Homo sapiens: one gene and its partners. The protein of the gene in region 3 interacts with the protein of the main gene of each other region in a pairwise test. Each region holds a gene or a part of one and is shown on either strand. Other genes may lie near its edges.

Region 1 (3,500 bases), on a different chromosome or scaffold from region 3:
ATAGATGGGGTTTCACCATGTTGCCCAGGCTGGTCTCAAACTCCTGAGCTCAAGCGATCTGCCTGCCTTGGCCTCCCAAAGTGCTGGGATTACAGGTGTGAACCACCACACTCAGCCAGTTTTAGCTTTTAGTTGTTGTTGCTATTGTTACTACTAAGTACTACAGAGGAAGACACCCCAGCCCAGGCGACAGTGAGCCCAGGACTGGAATGGTCTCTAACTGTGGGCAAATTCCACGCCTTTCTGTGACTCAGTTTTCCAGTCTCTGAAACGGGGATATTTAGGCTCCTCGAACCCGAGCAGCCCTCCCAGCTCCAACGCCCCATGGGAGGGTGTGGGGGTGCTCACCAGGTCCCCACTGCTGCCCGAAAGGAGGAGGTCTTTCACGGTGAGATTGCATCGTGGGGACAGGTCCACCGGATCAGCCGGCTTCTCAGCACAGATCCTTCCTCCTGGGCTCCACATTTCTGACCAGGGCAGGTGGGGACGGAGACAGGGAGAGTGTCAGACGGGGGGAGTCCTGAGCTTCCAGCCTCTAACCGCCTCCTCCACCAAGTCTCCCATGATTAATCCCAACATTCATATGACTTCTGCCAGAGTTTGGAGTCCCCAAGGCCTGAGTTGAAGGGGGCAGCCCTCACTAGTGACTCGGTCTCCCCTCTGCTATAAGATGGGAACCCAGCCAGTCATGGTGGCTCACGCCTGTATTCCCAGCACTTTGGGAGGCCAAGGCAGGCGGATCATCTGAGGTTAGGAGTTCAAGACCAGCCTGGCCAACATGGTGAAATCCCATCTCTATTAAAAATACAAAAATTAGCCGGGCCTGGTGGCGTGCACCTGTAATCCCAGCTGCTCGGGAGGCTGAGGCAGGAGAATCACTTGAACCCGGGTGGTGGACGTTACAGTGAGCTGAGAATGTGGCACTGCCCTCCAGCCTGGGTGACACAGCGAGACTCCATCTCAAAAAAAAAAAAAAGATGGGGACCCAAATTCAACAGGGCTTGGTTCTGTCCGTCCCACAAGGCTGAGGAAGACACAGGACATTGTCAGGAGACACCGGCTGATTCAAAAGGGAGTGGCTGTTATCACACAGAATTACAGGCTAGATTTGCAGCCAGCCAGGCGTTATCTCACCCAAGGGGCAGGGACGAGGTCTGATTCACCTCTGGTTGTCCCCTCCTGGTAGCCGGCATGCAGTAGGCATGCTGTCCCAGCACACAAACTTTGGGTCAGGTAACCCTTGGTTCTAATCCTGGTTGGGCAGGGCTGTGTGACCTTGAGTAAGTGACTTCACCTCTCTGAGCCTCAGATTTTTTTTTTTTTTTTTTTTTGAGACGGAGTCTCGCTCTGTCGCCAGGCTGGAGAGCAGTGTGGCAATCTTGGCTCACCGCAACCTCCACCTCCCAGGTTCAAGAGATTCTCCTGCCTTAGCCTCCCGAGTAGCTGAGACTACAGGCGCCTGCCACCACACCCAGCTAATTTTTGTATTTTTAGTAGAGACAGAGGTTTCACCATGTTGGCCAGGATGGTCTCGATCTCTTGACCTCGTGATCCGCTCGCTTCGGCCTCCCAAAGTGCTGGGATTACAGGCGTGAACCACTGTGCCCAGCATTTTTTGTTTTTGGCTTTTTTTCGAGACAGAGTCTGGCTCTGTCAGCCAGGATGGAGTGCAGTGGCATGATCTCAGCTCACTGCAACCTCCGCCTCCCGGGTTCAGGTGATTCTCCTGCCTCAGGCTCCTGAGTAGCTGGGACTACAGGTGGCCCCCACCATGCCCGGCTAATTTTGTATTTTTAGTAGAGATGGGGTTTCACCATGTTGGCCAGGCTGGTCTTGAAGTCCTAACCTCAAGTGATCCGCCTGCCTCAGCCTCCCAAAGTGCTGGGATTACAGGCATGAGTCACCGCTCCGGGCCTGAGCCTCAGTTTTGTCAACTCTCCAATGGGACCAAGAAGAGCTCATAGCAAGGGTCAAGGGACAAAGGCCACCCAGAGGCCAAGTATCTCCAGCCAGGGCTCTGCCTGGCCCGCCGGGAATGCTTAATCAATAGAGTAAATCATTACTGATCTGCTGTTCCCCACGTCTAGGAGGAGCACCCTGGAACCTAGGACCTGGTAACCTCATGCACTTTTATTGAGCATCTACAGGCTGGGTGGAGCGGCTCACACCTGTAATCTCAGCACTTTGGGAGGCTGAGGTGGGCAGATCACCTGAGCTCAGGAGTTCAAGACCAGCCTGGCCAACATGGTGAAACCTCGTCTCTACTAAAAAATAAATATTAGCTGGGCATGGTGGCATATGCTTGTGATCCCAGCTACTCAGGAGGCTGAGGCAGGTGAATTGCTTGAACCTGGAAGGCAGAGGTTGCAGTGAGCCGAGATCGCGCCACTTTACTCCAGCCTGGGTGACAGAGTGAAACTCTGTCTCAAAAAATAAAAATAAATAAAAAATAAAAAAAAATCTACTAGGAACCAGGCACGGGGTACAGACACGTAGAAGGCAAGACCCTGACTTTGGGCTGTGCTTGTCAGCACCATGCCTGGTGCCTGAGCCACCTGCCGGGGTTGCATCCTAGCTCTGTGGTTTTAGCTCATTGCTCAACCTGACAGGACTGTTTCACGATCTGGAAAATGGGCTCCCAATAGCATCCACGTGAAAGCATGGAAACACCTAGCCAAGGGAGACACGTGTCCTGAGTTTGAGTCTGGGCCCAGCTCCAAATTGCTGTGTGACCTTGGACAAGATGCCAGCCCTCTCTGGGCCTCCATTTCCTCACTTACAGGAAGGGCCCTGGAACAAGGTGAGGGCGGTGGGCAGAGACACAGCAGGACTCACCCAGGTCTATGGTCACAGAGGCTTCAGGTACTTGGATCACTGGCCCTGGGGTTGTGGTGGAGCAAGAGTTGCCAGGATGATAGGAGAGGCAGGGCCCCTTGCCAGGCTGGGCAGGATGGCAGCCGGCGGGGGAGGTGGCTGGTCCGCTGCGTGGAGGGGTGTCCTGGGGGTCGGAGGGGAGGTCTTCGGAGATGCCACTATCACTGCCTTCGGGGGACCAGAGTGGGGAGCTGGGCAGTGAGTCTCCAGAGCCCAGGATGGAGCTGAGGAAGTCGTCAGAGTCGGGGTTTGGCAGGACCTGCTGGGGTGGACAGGGAGGGGTAGTAGGAATTAGGAAGTGCTCACTCTTTTTAGATTAGTGTGTGGCCCCAGGGAAACCAGTGACCCTCTTTGGGCCTTAGGTGTCCTTCCCTTCTCCAAGATGAGTTACTGCTTCTTCCTCCCGGGGCTGCTGAGGCTCAAACGCAGTAACATAGCATAAAAATCCCAGCCAGTGCCAGGTGCAGTGGCTCCTGCCTGTAATCCCAGCACTTTGGGAGGCCGAGGAGGGCGAATCACTTGAGGTCAGGAGTTCGAGATCCGCCTGGCCAACATGATGAAACCCCATTTCTTCTAAAAATACAAAAAGTAGCTGGGCGTGGTGGCGGGCATCTGTAGTCCCAGCT
Region 2 (3,500 bases), on a different chromosome or scaffold from region 3:
AGAAGCTGGTCATGGAAGGGAAGGCTTCCCCATACAACATCCCTGCCCCTGCTGGCAGATGCCCTGCAGGGAACAGGAGCGAGCCCAGGAGGGCCCTGCACAGCTCCGGACTCCATTTCTTTTCACATGGGTGCTGTCCAGCAAGCGATCTGCGTGTCTGTCCAGCAGATGGGGCCTCCATGAGGGGCCCATTTTGACGACTGATAAATGAAACTCTATCTGCATTTTCCAGGAGTGTAAGAACGCTATCTGCCATCAGGAGACCAAAGGCAGCCAGCGCTTTCTCCTATGGCTTGACTTACACAGTGTCAGACCTTCAGGATTTAAGTATCGAGCAAAGGTCAACTCTTGAATTTGCTAACTGGTGTCTCTTGTTTGAACATTTGCCAGGTTCTGGTCTTTAGCCATGACTTACTGGGTGGGAGTGTTTAAGGTCAGTTCCTAATTAGAGGGCTCCTGGTCCTCTCTGTCCTATCCCCTACATTGCCTAATAGGGTGGCATTCTAGGGGACATCTCTCAGGGAAACCTTACAAGGTGCAAGTCCCCGATCACTTCCCAGCCACTTCACTCACTTTCTGCTTCTCATCCAAGTTGCTGCCGCTTGCCTCAGCCTTGGGACACCCCACCCCCCAAACTGGCCACCAATTAGATGCAGTGACCCCAACTTCCCTCTTTCATGCAGCACCCCATGTCCTCCCACAGATGCTTCTCGTTTTAAGGAGATTTACTGCTGATTACGATGGGGAAACAGATGGTGGGGGAGGGGCACAACAACAGAACAAACACAGGGAAGTTACCCAAAAGTTCCTGAAATCTATTCAAACCATGGCTATTGCTTACAGCCGACTCATGGGTCAGGCTTCGTGCAGGTGCACACGGGTATTCCCTCATCTCATCCTCTGTGCCACCCTTTGGGGTGAGGGTTGTTGGTCCCATTTTAGAGCTGGGGAAACTGAGGCTCAGTCCAAAGCAGGATGGAAATCCACACCTGTTGGCCTCTCCAGCAAACTGCCGTCCTCAAGGCTCCCAGCCCTTTCCTTTTCTTTTTTTCCTGAGAGTGCCTCATTCCTGAGCAGGCTCTCTGGGCCAGCCTTCCACCAGGGAGGGCACAGCAACACCTGCTCCCCCTGCCCTGCTGCCCAGCGTTGCTCTTCTGTTCCAAGCCCTTTACCTGCCCCCACCCACCCCCAGCCATGGGTATTCCTGCAGGTAGGTTGTGGTGTGTTCTAGGAGAGGAATAGGGGAGTTCTGAAAGCAAGGGTGAGGTGGCCACAGCCCCCGAGTGACCCACTATGGGGCTTCACGTGGGGGCCCCCGGGAATGAGGGGAGGGAGGGATGACAAGTTGTTAAGGGCCGGCCACAGGAAATAAGTTGCGAGCCAAAAGCCACCTGGCACCAGAGCAATCCTTTCTCAGTTACCTCTGTAGCCAGGCAGACGGGAAGAGGCCAGGGAGGGGAGGCAAGGGTAAAAAACTCCCTAGCCCCTTCTTGGAGGACTCAGACTAACCAAGACTCAAGGGCAGGGTCAGGAACTAGGCAAGGGGCACTGTCACCTGGCCAGGGTGGGAGGTGAAAGATGTTTGTGCCCATGACTTAAAGCCCAGCCCCACCACTTATTTGCTGTGTGGTTCCTTAGGCAAGTTACTTAACCCCTCTGTGCCTCCGTTTGCCCATCAGTAAAATGGGGACAATGGTAGGACCAAATTCTTGGACTTGCAATGAGGAGTAAGTGAGAGCATTTTTATTATATGGTGGACTTCTATTCCCTGGAAAGAGCATGCGTTGAAAGCTCTGAGATTGAGTCCTAGCTCTGCCACTTACTAAGTTACGTAACATTCAGTCAGTTATGTAACCCCACTGATCTTAGCCTTCTCATCTGGAAAAAGAAAGGGTTGAGCTAAGTTGTCTGTAAGACCCCTTCCACTTCTGATATTCCAAAGATCATTTTTTGTCCCAACAATTGCTACTAATTACAAAACAAGCACGCCCATACCTTAAACAGGTCCCCCAAGGATCTCTGAGTGGCAGCAACTTGCTTTTATAAAGCAACTTGAGCTACTGCATATGATCATTCATTCAGAAGACATGTATTGAGTGCCGAGCCAGCACTGCCTGGGAGCCAAAGGGGCTGGTGGGCACTTGGCCCCCGGAAATGGCATGCCTCCTTTCTCTCGGCCATTTCGCCCAGCTCCTGGCGGGAAGTGCAGCTGCTCCCAACTCTCAAATGAAAAGGAATTGTGCCTGCATCGTGCCTTTGCGAATCCCAGGGGCTGAACTGGGGGCTGGAGCAGGTCACTCGCACCGTCCACCCACCCCAGGCAGGGAGGAATACTCACGGCGGTTGGAGGCTGCCTGCCTTTGCTTGTAGACCAGGAGCAGGATGAGGGGGAGGCAGAGGATTCCTACGATGCAGGCACCCGTAGCCAGGGCTGCAGCCGTGATGTCTGAAAGGGCAGAGAGGTAGCCAAGGTGAAGCCCCATTCCCATTGCTCCTCCTGAGCATAAACTGAGGCTCAGAGAGGGAAGGCCAGGAAGCAGGAGACCCGCCTTTCCCCAGAGTCCCACAGCTAGACCCCCAGCAACCTACAGAGGCATGGAAGATAAGGCGGTTCTCCTTTCAAAGAGAGCCCTGTGCCTGCCGCCCTATGCCCCTGGAGCACTCAGAAACAAGACCTGTCACCTACAGCTCAGGCAGCTCCAGGCAAGAGAGGGAACAGAGTCCTCATCCCAGCCCACAAGGTACAGCTGGAACACCCTTGGCTACAGGTTGTTCTCTGAAAAGGGAGAGCAGGGCCTTCGCAGACCCCATGCCACAGAGCTCAAGGTCAAAAGAAGCCTAAGTGATGAAAGTTTTGAAAATAGACAGTGGTGACGGTTGCACATTGTGAATGTAATTAATGCCACCAAACTGTAGGCTTAAAATGGTTGAAATGGCAAATTTTACATTATATATGTTTTATCATAATAGATAAAAAGCCCCAACTCATCCCAGAGACTCCTTAGCTCTGGGATGGGGCCTCTAGAACCCCTTGATCTCACCACACAAGTCACAGGAGAAACACCCGGGGTGAGAACTAGAAAAACGTGAATCCTTGTACAATGTTTTTCAATTTTAAACTTATTAAACTACCAAAAAAAGTACAAGTTTAAAAAATATTCGAATCTCCTCCTCCCCTTGTACCAAGACCCCCTCTGAAGAGATCATCCCTGTGTGCCGGTTTTTGTGTTATGGTCCTAGTTATATTCCCTGCAAATACAGCAGACGCAGCATCATATGACAATGCTTTTCCCACTGAGCACAGCTTGGACATCTCTCTGTCTCCCCTGCCTCATTCTGCTTAGAGTTTTATCACATGGCTCCCACTAAATTTATTGAAGCAGTCCCCTGTTGGTAGACATGTTGTTTCCATTTTCAGCATAACTAATAATGTAGCAATGAACTTGTGCACGCAGCCTGGCTCACTCAGCAAGGAAATCTGTAGTAAATTCCTAGCGGTC
Region 3 (3,935 bases):
ACCCAGTTCGAGCTTCCAGGCTGCTTTGTTTACCTAAGCAAGCCTGCGCAATGGCGGGCGCCCCTCCCCCAACCTCGCTGCCACCTCGCAGTTTGATCTGAGACTGCTGTGCTAGCAATCAGCGAGATTCCGTGGGCGTAGGACCCTCTGAGCCAGGTGTGGGATATAGTCTCCTGGTGCGCCGTTTTTTGAGCCGGTCTGAAAAGCGCAATATTCGGGTGGGAGTGACCCGATTTTCCAGGTGCGTCCGTCACCCCTTTCTTTGACTCGGAAAGGGAACTCCCTGACCCCTTGAGCTTCCCAGGTGAGGCAATGCCTCGCCCTGCTTCGGCTCGCGCACGGTGCGTGCACACACTGGCCTGCGCCCACTGTCTGGCACTCCCTAGTGAGATGAACCTGGTACCTCAGATGGAAATGCAGAAATCACCCGTCTTCTGCGTCGCTCATGCTGGGAGCTGTAGACCGGAGCTGTTCCTATTCGGCCATCTTGGCTCCTCCAACCTACTTTACTAATTTTTGAAGCCTTTCTTTGTTAAGTCCAACATTTATTCTTCCCTTGCTCAAAGACGCTATGTCTATTAAGTGTTGTTTTGAACCCTATGGGTAACTATTATTATTTGCATACTTTTTGTTGTTGAAAACTGGACATTTTAGATAATATATGGTAGCAATTTTAGATTCTGATTGCCTCATTTCCCAGGAGTGGTGGTTAGCAATACCAGTGGTTAGTATCTTGGAATACTGGAAGTCCTAACTCCCAGTACCTTGGAATGTGACTGTATTTGGAAATAGGGTCTTTTAACTGGCAATGAAGTTATAATAAGGTAATTAGAATGAGCCCTAATCTAATATGACTGGTGAGCTTAGAAGAGACTAGGACACAGACAAATAAAGAGAAGACCATGTGAAAACACAGGGAGAAGACAGCCAAGTGAAAGCCAAAGAGAGATGCCTCAGAAGAAACTAACCCTGCCAACACCTTGATCTTGAACTTCTAGCCTCTGGAATTGTAAGAAAATAAGTTTGTTGTTTAAGCTACAGTCTGTGGTGCTTTGTTATAGAAGCTCTAGGAAAGTATTAGACACCTTGAGCCAGTAAGACTTCTACCCTTTCCCAATGAATCAGTGTAGCTTGAGCAATATATTCAAAGTTGAGGTTGCCCCAGCTTTTACTTTATTTTTGCAAGGCCTCTTGTTCAACCAAGGGCTCACTAGGACCTTCTCCTGTCTCCTTAGTATGTGTATAGCTTTGCACATATTTATATTCTTCCAGACTACAGGGGAAAAGTAGGAAGTTATCAAGGTCCACTGTGGCTGTCCTGTTCTTCAAATTTCTCTGTTGAGTTTCTGGTTGGTTGCTAGTAAATTTTTTGCCCCAACAAGTATTGTGATCTTAGTCAGGCTAGGAGTGACCTTGGCCTTATCTGCTTGTTTGTCACTGGGATTACTGTTGTTTTAATAACGCTTTTGGTCTTGGAACTTTCTGAGCTCTGTTCCAAATAAAACTAGTCATCTCAAGCAATGAGGCTGCTGGGCCTCACAGTCTGACCCACCAAGGTAAACTTCTGCGTAACGGAATCTGAGGGTGGGGTAGTATATTAGTCTGTTTTCACACTGCTATAACAAACTTGTCAAGACTGGGTAATTTATAAAGGAAAGAGGTTTAATTGACTTACAGTTCCACATGGCTTGGGAGACCTCAGGAAACTTACAATGATGGCGTAAGGCAAAGGGGAAGCAAGGACCTTTTTCACATGGCAGCAGGAGAAAGAAGACTGAGTGAATGAGGAACTTGCTAAACACTTATAAAACTATCAGATCTCATGAGAACTCACTCACTATCATGAGAATAGCATGGGGAAAACTGCCCCCATGATCCAGTTTCCTCCCATCAGGTTCCTCCCTCAAAACCTGGGGATTACAATTCAAGATGAGATTTGGGTGGGGACACAAAGCCTAACCATATCAGGTGGGAAGAGTGGGAACAGTCCCAAGCTAACATGCCACAGACATGCACTGTTCTTACTGAGGTCCAGTAGATTTTCTTAAATAAACACTTCTCAAGTTCTTGTATGCTTGGTCAACTTCCTGAATCTTTAGAAGGTTGTTCATTGACAATTTTGTTCAGTTTTATAATTTCATTTTTAGGGAGAGTTACCATGTCCTCAATCAGCCATTCTGGAAATGCAACTCATTCCCTCTCTTCAGAAATCCTTTTACCATGTAGTCTTATAGTTGTTTCTGTATTTCAATCAGTTGTTGATCATAGTAGTCTTCCTTGACCATCCTACATAAAATAATCTTGCCTTATCTCCTTAGTTTGCTTTATTTTACTTCATAACATTTTTCAGTTCTTGACATTTTATAATTTTATGTGTTTGTTTATTGCCTTTCTCCCCCAGTGGAATGCAAACTCCCTAATGGAGAGGCCATTGTTTTGTTAATCATTGCATCCTTAGTGCCTATGACAATGCCTAGCAAATAGCATGCTCTCCGTAAATATTTGAGAAAGAATGAATGAATGTTAGATATGTAGTCTTTTAAGCTTGTGAGAAAATAATCATTCTCATAAACTTTTGTGAGTTGTTATAGCATTTTGGGATGTTGTTACACTTGATCCTGCAATGACATTTCTAGGAATCAAACACCTAAAGAATTAGTGGTCCTGTATGCAAAAATATTTATACTCAAATGTTCACTGCATCATTGTTTATAATTTAGAAAAAACTGGAAACCAAGCTACATATGCAGTAATTAGGGAATGCTAAATACTAAGAAAAACAATGAAGGCAATAAAAGGCATTATTTAGATATGTTTTGTAATGGAAAGATATTTCTAATCATTGCAAAAAATGAATGTGACAAAATAATGTGAATATAATACATACAATTAGTAAAGAGAATGTGTGTGTATTCGTCTTTTTTTGTATAGAATTGGATGTGTGGATACGATGAGAACTATATTAAAGAAAAATCACTTTTTACTCTATATGCTTTTTGCTTTTAAATGTAGTTTCATGTATTACTGTTATAATTTTATGCTATTTATAAAATAACAAAAATAAAAAATAAAGGCAATATCACACATTCCATTTATATTAGTTCTAAATATTTTGTATCAGTGCACTTCATCTTCTCATAGAGTGTAGTTACTAGAAATCAACATCTTTTGATTTGCCAGAGAGTGGGTAAACACTTACCAAATTGGAACAGCTGTATATTGAGTGTGTAAGTGCAATAGAAAATTCCAAACCGTAGAAGAACAGTAAAATACGTGATACTTCCCTCCCAAGTTTCTATAACCAAAAAACAGGGAGAAATCTTAATGCTATTATCTTTAGTGAGTGCAAACATGATCATGGAAGGAGCTACTGGTATGAGAGTCAAAAAAAAAAAAAAAAAAAAGGAAGGAAAATAAGAACAGATAAACCTTTCACCATTTGATTTCCTTAGACATTTCTACTCCTTTGCCCTCTGCTACACTTTCCCTAGCTTTCAGTTCCTCAATTCAGCATCTGTGGCTTCTGCATTTGATCTCCATTGCTTAGCATTCTTGTCTCACTTCTGACAGCTTTTACAGAGTCGCTGGCACAGCTCACTATCTAAACTCTCCAGTTAGTAAGATTTGACTTTCCTGTCTCTAATGATAAGATGGCCACCAACAGATTTATCAAGCAATCCTTTTCTATTAAAACAGCTATTATTAATCACAACCCTTCTTAAATTTACATACATGGTGATAAAACTCTCACATATATATTGCTCTAATATCATTTAAAATGATTAATACATTCAAAAAGAGTTCAAAGAACATTTAACTTGGAAGCATAAGGTGATTGTGACTGCTGGGATAAATAAAACAGATTCCCTTCTGTTGCTATCAGAAAGATATTTTCAACTACAAATCCGATTGGTTAGTTATGTGAATAATATTGG
Region 4 (3,500 bases), 1.2 Mb from region 3:
ACCCACATGGTTGCCCTTGTCTATTCTCACCCCCCAACCCCATCCCCAGTGGGTCTGGCTGCTCAGATGGAGAATCAGGGTCTCCAGGAGTCTGTACCCAAAGGCAGAGCAATGGGCCAGTTATTCACAGAGGTTCCTCCTAGGCTGGATGTCTGCAGTCAGTGTGTTGAGCATAAAGATAACAGATCCAACATTAAAAGTGCAGACCTCCAAACCGAGCAAGAAGGGGCTAGCTTGCTTTTGTGCCATGTGCGGCCCCTTAAAAGCCTGATGCTGGGTGGTCAGGAGAGGAAGGCAAGGGTGGCCCTCATATGCATTCAAGGCACTTAACATCAATCTGTAGTGACAGGCCAGGCCCTTTTTGAGCCTCTTGGCTCCTCCGTGTGTCTAAGGACCGCTTCCCGCTCTCCAACCCTGGCTTCATAAGGCAAATGGCCACAAGGAGAAGGAGGGCAACAGGGTCTTCCAGGGCTACGGGAGGCAGGTAGGGAAGGGTGCAGGGAATTGCTACTCTGGGGACCTGCTGGCTCTTAGGGACTTGGACAGCTGTACATCCTAAACCAATGTCCCACCTTCTGGGGCATGAAGGGACAGTGTGCTGGCCAAGCAGGGTTCCCAGAGCACTGTGGGATGGGTGGTGGTGGCCAGCTGGGCTGGGAGGGAATATGGGCTTTGGGGCCTTGGCTCCCAGACCTGACATTTTGGGCTGGGACGTGGCCACAGCAGGCACGGGTGTGGCTCTGGCTGCAGTGCTGAGCTGACGTGGAAGGTCCACGGGGAGCCGAACACAGCAGTGCAGGAGGGTGGGACGGTGAGAATTCCTGCCGGGCAGCGGGGGTCCAGACAGCCTGCTCCCCAGGTGCTTGAGCCAGCTGCTCTGGGCTGCAGGTGTGGTGCCAGTTCTGCACCCCAGCAGCAAGACCCACGGCAGGTGACCTGCCCTCTCTGGGACTTGGATTCCTCATCTGTAGAATGGATCTCACAACCATGCCGGGGTTCACAAAGGGATTAAATGGATGAATTGCGTAAAGGGCTTGGCATGGGGAGCTCCTTACATAATGCACTGTAGAAGCCCCATTAACAGGAGGTACTGGGACCCACCCTGGAAGCCCCTCTCTTTTTCTTTCAACAAACAAATTATTGTGACACTACCTGGATGCCCTCCCTCATTTTGTCTGCCATGGCACACTTTCCCCCATCTTTAAAACATCATGCAAAACTCACCCCCTCTAGGAAGCTTTCCTTGACTTGCCTCTCCCAATCTCTGAATCCTAGAGGCAGCCTAGCCTAATTTAATAGCTAGTTAAGCGAGGACTCTAAGGCCAGACTGCCTGGGCTAGTTCCCAGCCTTACCATTTTCTAGCTGTGTAACCTCAGGCAAGTCCCATCATCTCTCTGTACCTCAGTTTCTCCACCCATATTATGGGGAAGTTGACAGCTGTGTGGTGGACTTGTAACTTACTACACGCAATGCTTGGCTTCACTGTTATTACCATTGTTATTATCAGCAGTGGACAATGATGACAACAACTACTATTAACCGAGCACTTACCCAGTGTGAGCACTGTGTTAGTCACTCTGCAGGTATTAGCTCAGTTAAATCTCACAACAACATGAGACAAGAATTGTTATTATTCCCACTTTATAGACAAGGAAACTGAGGCAGGGAGCAGTTAAGCCCTTTGACTAATGCCCACGGCTCACACGAGGTTGGCATGCAGTCTGGGAGGCCTGGGGTAGCCTTCTGAAGAATGGAGACCTCTGCTCACCAGACAGCAAAGCCCACCCTGGGACTGCCCACCCAGCCCGCTGACTGACCGCAGGTTGTAGGTCCGCAGGTTACGCTGCCTCCTCTTGGTGGCTCTCAGCTTGACAAAGGTGCGGCCCGTGGGGTCGAAGACGCAGAGGACAGTGATGCACACACTGAGGATGACTACCCAGTTGCAGACAACCATTCCTGCGGGCAGCAGTGGGAGGCATTAGGTAGGGGCGCTGGGGACACCTCTCTGGCTCACCCGCTCTGAAGAAAGGGACATTGGAGCCTCCCTAACCCCAAATGCTTCTGGGGACAAAAGCCAGGCTCCAAAGCCCCTGGTCCCAGTCTCTGGCCACATACGTGGCCACCCTATTGCCCACCCACAACCCCAAGGGCCACTCTTGGCTCAGAGCAGGCAGCTCTGTGGGTTTCCAAGGAGGTGCTGAGGAGCCTCGGCTTGACCTGAGCAGCTCTGTGCCTGCTGCAGCCCACCCCAGACCAGGTAGCTGGCAGGCCTCAAGGGTGAGGGAAGCAGTCTCGCCCAGCCAACCTGCTGGTGCCCCCACAGAAGGCACTGCCCTCTGGCAATGCCCAAGCTTCTTCCTCTCTAAACTGATCTCGTCCCCTGTGCCCCCGGGGCTGCTGAGGCTCCAGCAGGCCTCACCCAGACGTACCGAGGGTGACATTCTTGGCAGTGAGGTCGTTGCAGGAGGTGTAGTACTGAGTGAGCCAGACGATGCCCACGATGGCGTAGATGAACTCGATCACCAGGATGGCTGCAAGGAGAGCAGGCCTGGCTGAAGGATGGCTGCCACTTGCATGCCAGGGAAGGGCCTAGAACCCCGGCCTGGCCTTTCCTATCGCTGGGCTTTCAGCCAGCTCAGTAGCAAAGGCAGAGGCAGCGGGCCATTAGCAGACCCCCCACCCCCCGCCTCCCAGGCCCCAAGCCCGTCCTGTCACCATTTGGTCCTGTTGGCCCCTGAATGACCGCTTGCAATGTGCCCACCACCTCTCCTAGCTTCTGTGCTCTCAAGTCCCCGGGGCATCCCTGATGGAGTTTTGCTCTTGTTGTCCAGGCTGGAGTGCAATGGTGTGATCTTGACTCACTGCAACCTCTGCCTCCTGGGTTCAAGAGATTCTCCTGCTTCAGTCCCTAGGGTAGATGGGATTACACGCACCCACCACCAGGCCCAGCTAATTTTTGTATTTTTAGTAGAGACGGGGTTTCGTCATGTTGGCCAGGCTGGTCTTGAACTCCTGACCTCAAGTGGTCCACCCGCCTCGGCCTCCCAAAGTGCTGGGATTACAGGCATGAGCCACCGCGCCTGGCCCATTTCCTCATTCTATCAGGATCTCAGAATCATGTCTGAACTGTGGAATCAGACACATCTTAGGCAAGTTTCCTAATCTCTCTGAGCCTCCATTTCCTCATCTGTAAAATGGGAGTGACAACATTTATGTCATAGGACTGTGCAAAAATTAGATGAGAGCGTGTTCACTTCATGGAAACTATTTCCCAGCAAGAGGCCTCTGGAACCTGATGGAGGAGAGAGGAAGGGCCCAGCAGCTGGTCTGCATCCAGCTCAGGCCCCTCAGGGGCTGAGACTGGAGGGGAGGGGTATGGAGTGGTGGCTGAGAAGGAGATCTGCTGGCCTCATGGGGGCAGCCTGGAAAGCCCCAGCTGCACGGGCAGCAGTGTGGCAGCTCAGAGACCAGACTTTGGAGCCAGACAGCGTGGGTTCAA

What was found. Proteins that work in one complex are often made in the same cells at the same time.
Region 1: the proteins of MS4A13 (region 3) and CREB3L3 interact in binary tests that used the Homo sapiens proteins (3 or more experiments, as listed by UniProt).
Region 2: the proteins of MS4A13 (region 3) and VSIR interact in binary tests that used the Homo sapiens proteins (3 or more experiments, as listed by UniProt).
Region 4: the proteins of MS4A13 (region 3) and DAGLA interact in binary tests that used the Homo sapiens proteins (3 or more experiments, as listed by UniProt).

What each region holds. Positions count from the first base shown.
Region 1 is NC_000019.10:4,156,631-4,160,130, reverse strand, and holds part of CREB3L3 (cyclic AMP-responsive element-binding protein 3-like protein 3), read right to left. Parts: intron 3,137-3,500; coding exon 2,836-3,136; intron 468-2,835; coding exon 349-467; intron 1-348. UniProt on the Homo sapiens protein: Transcription factor that may act during endoplasmic reticulum stress by activating unfolded protein response target genes. Activated in response to cAMP stimulation. In vitro, binds to the cAMP response element (CRE) and box-B element.
Region 2 is NC_000010.11:71,753,021-71,756,520, forward strand, and holds part of VSIR (V-type immunoglobulin domain-containing suppressor of T-cell activation precursor), read right to left. Parts: intron 2,447-3,500; coding exon 2,339-2,446; intron 1-2,338.
Region 3 is NC_000011.10:60,528,725-60,532,659, reverse strand, and holds part of MS4A13 (membrane-spanning 4-domains subfamily A member 13), read right to left. Parts: intron 3,296-3,935; coding exon 3,200-3,295; intron 1-3,199. UniProt on the Homo sapiens protein: May be involved in signal transduction as a component of a multimeric receptor complex.
Region 4 is NC_000011.10:61,721,891-61,725,390, reverse strand, and holds part of DAGLA (diacylglycerol lipase-alpha), read right to left. Parts: intron 2,533-3,500; coding exon 2,431-2,532; intron 1,958-2,430; coding exon 1,819-1,957; intron 1-1,818. UniProt on the Homo sapiens protein: Serine hydrolase that hydrolyzes arachidonic acid-esterified diacylglycerols (DAGs) to produce the principal endocannabinoid, 2-arachidonoylglycerol (2-AG).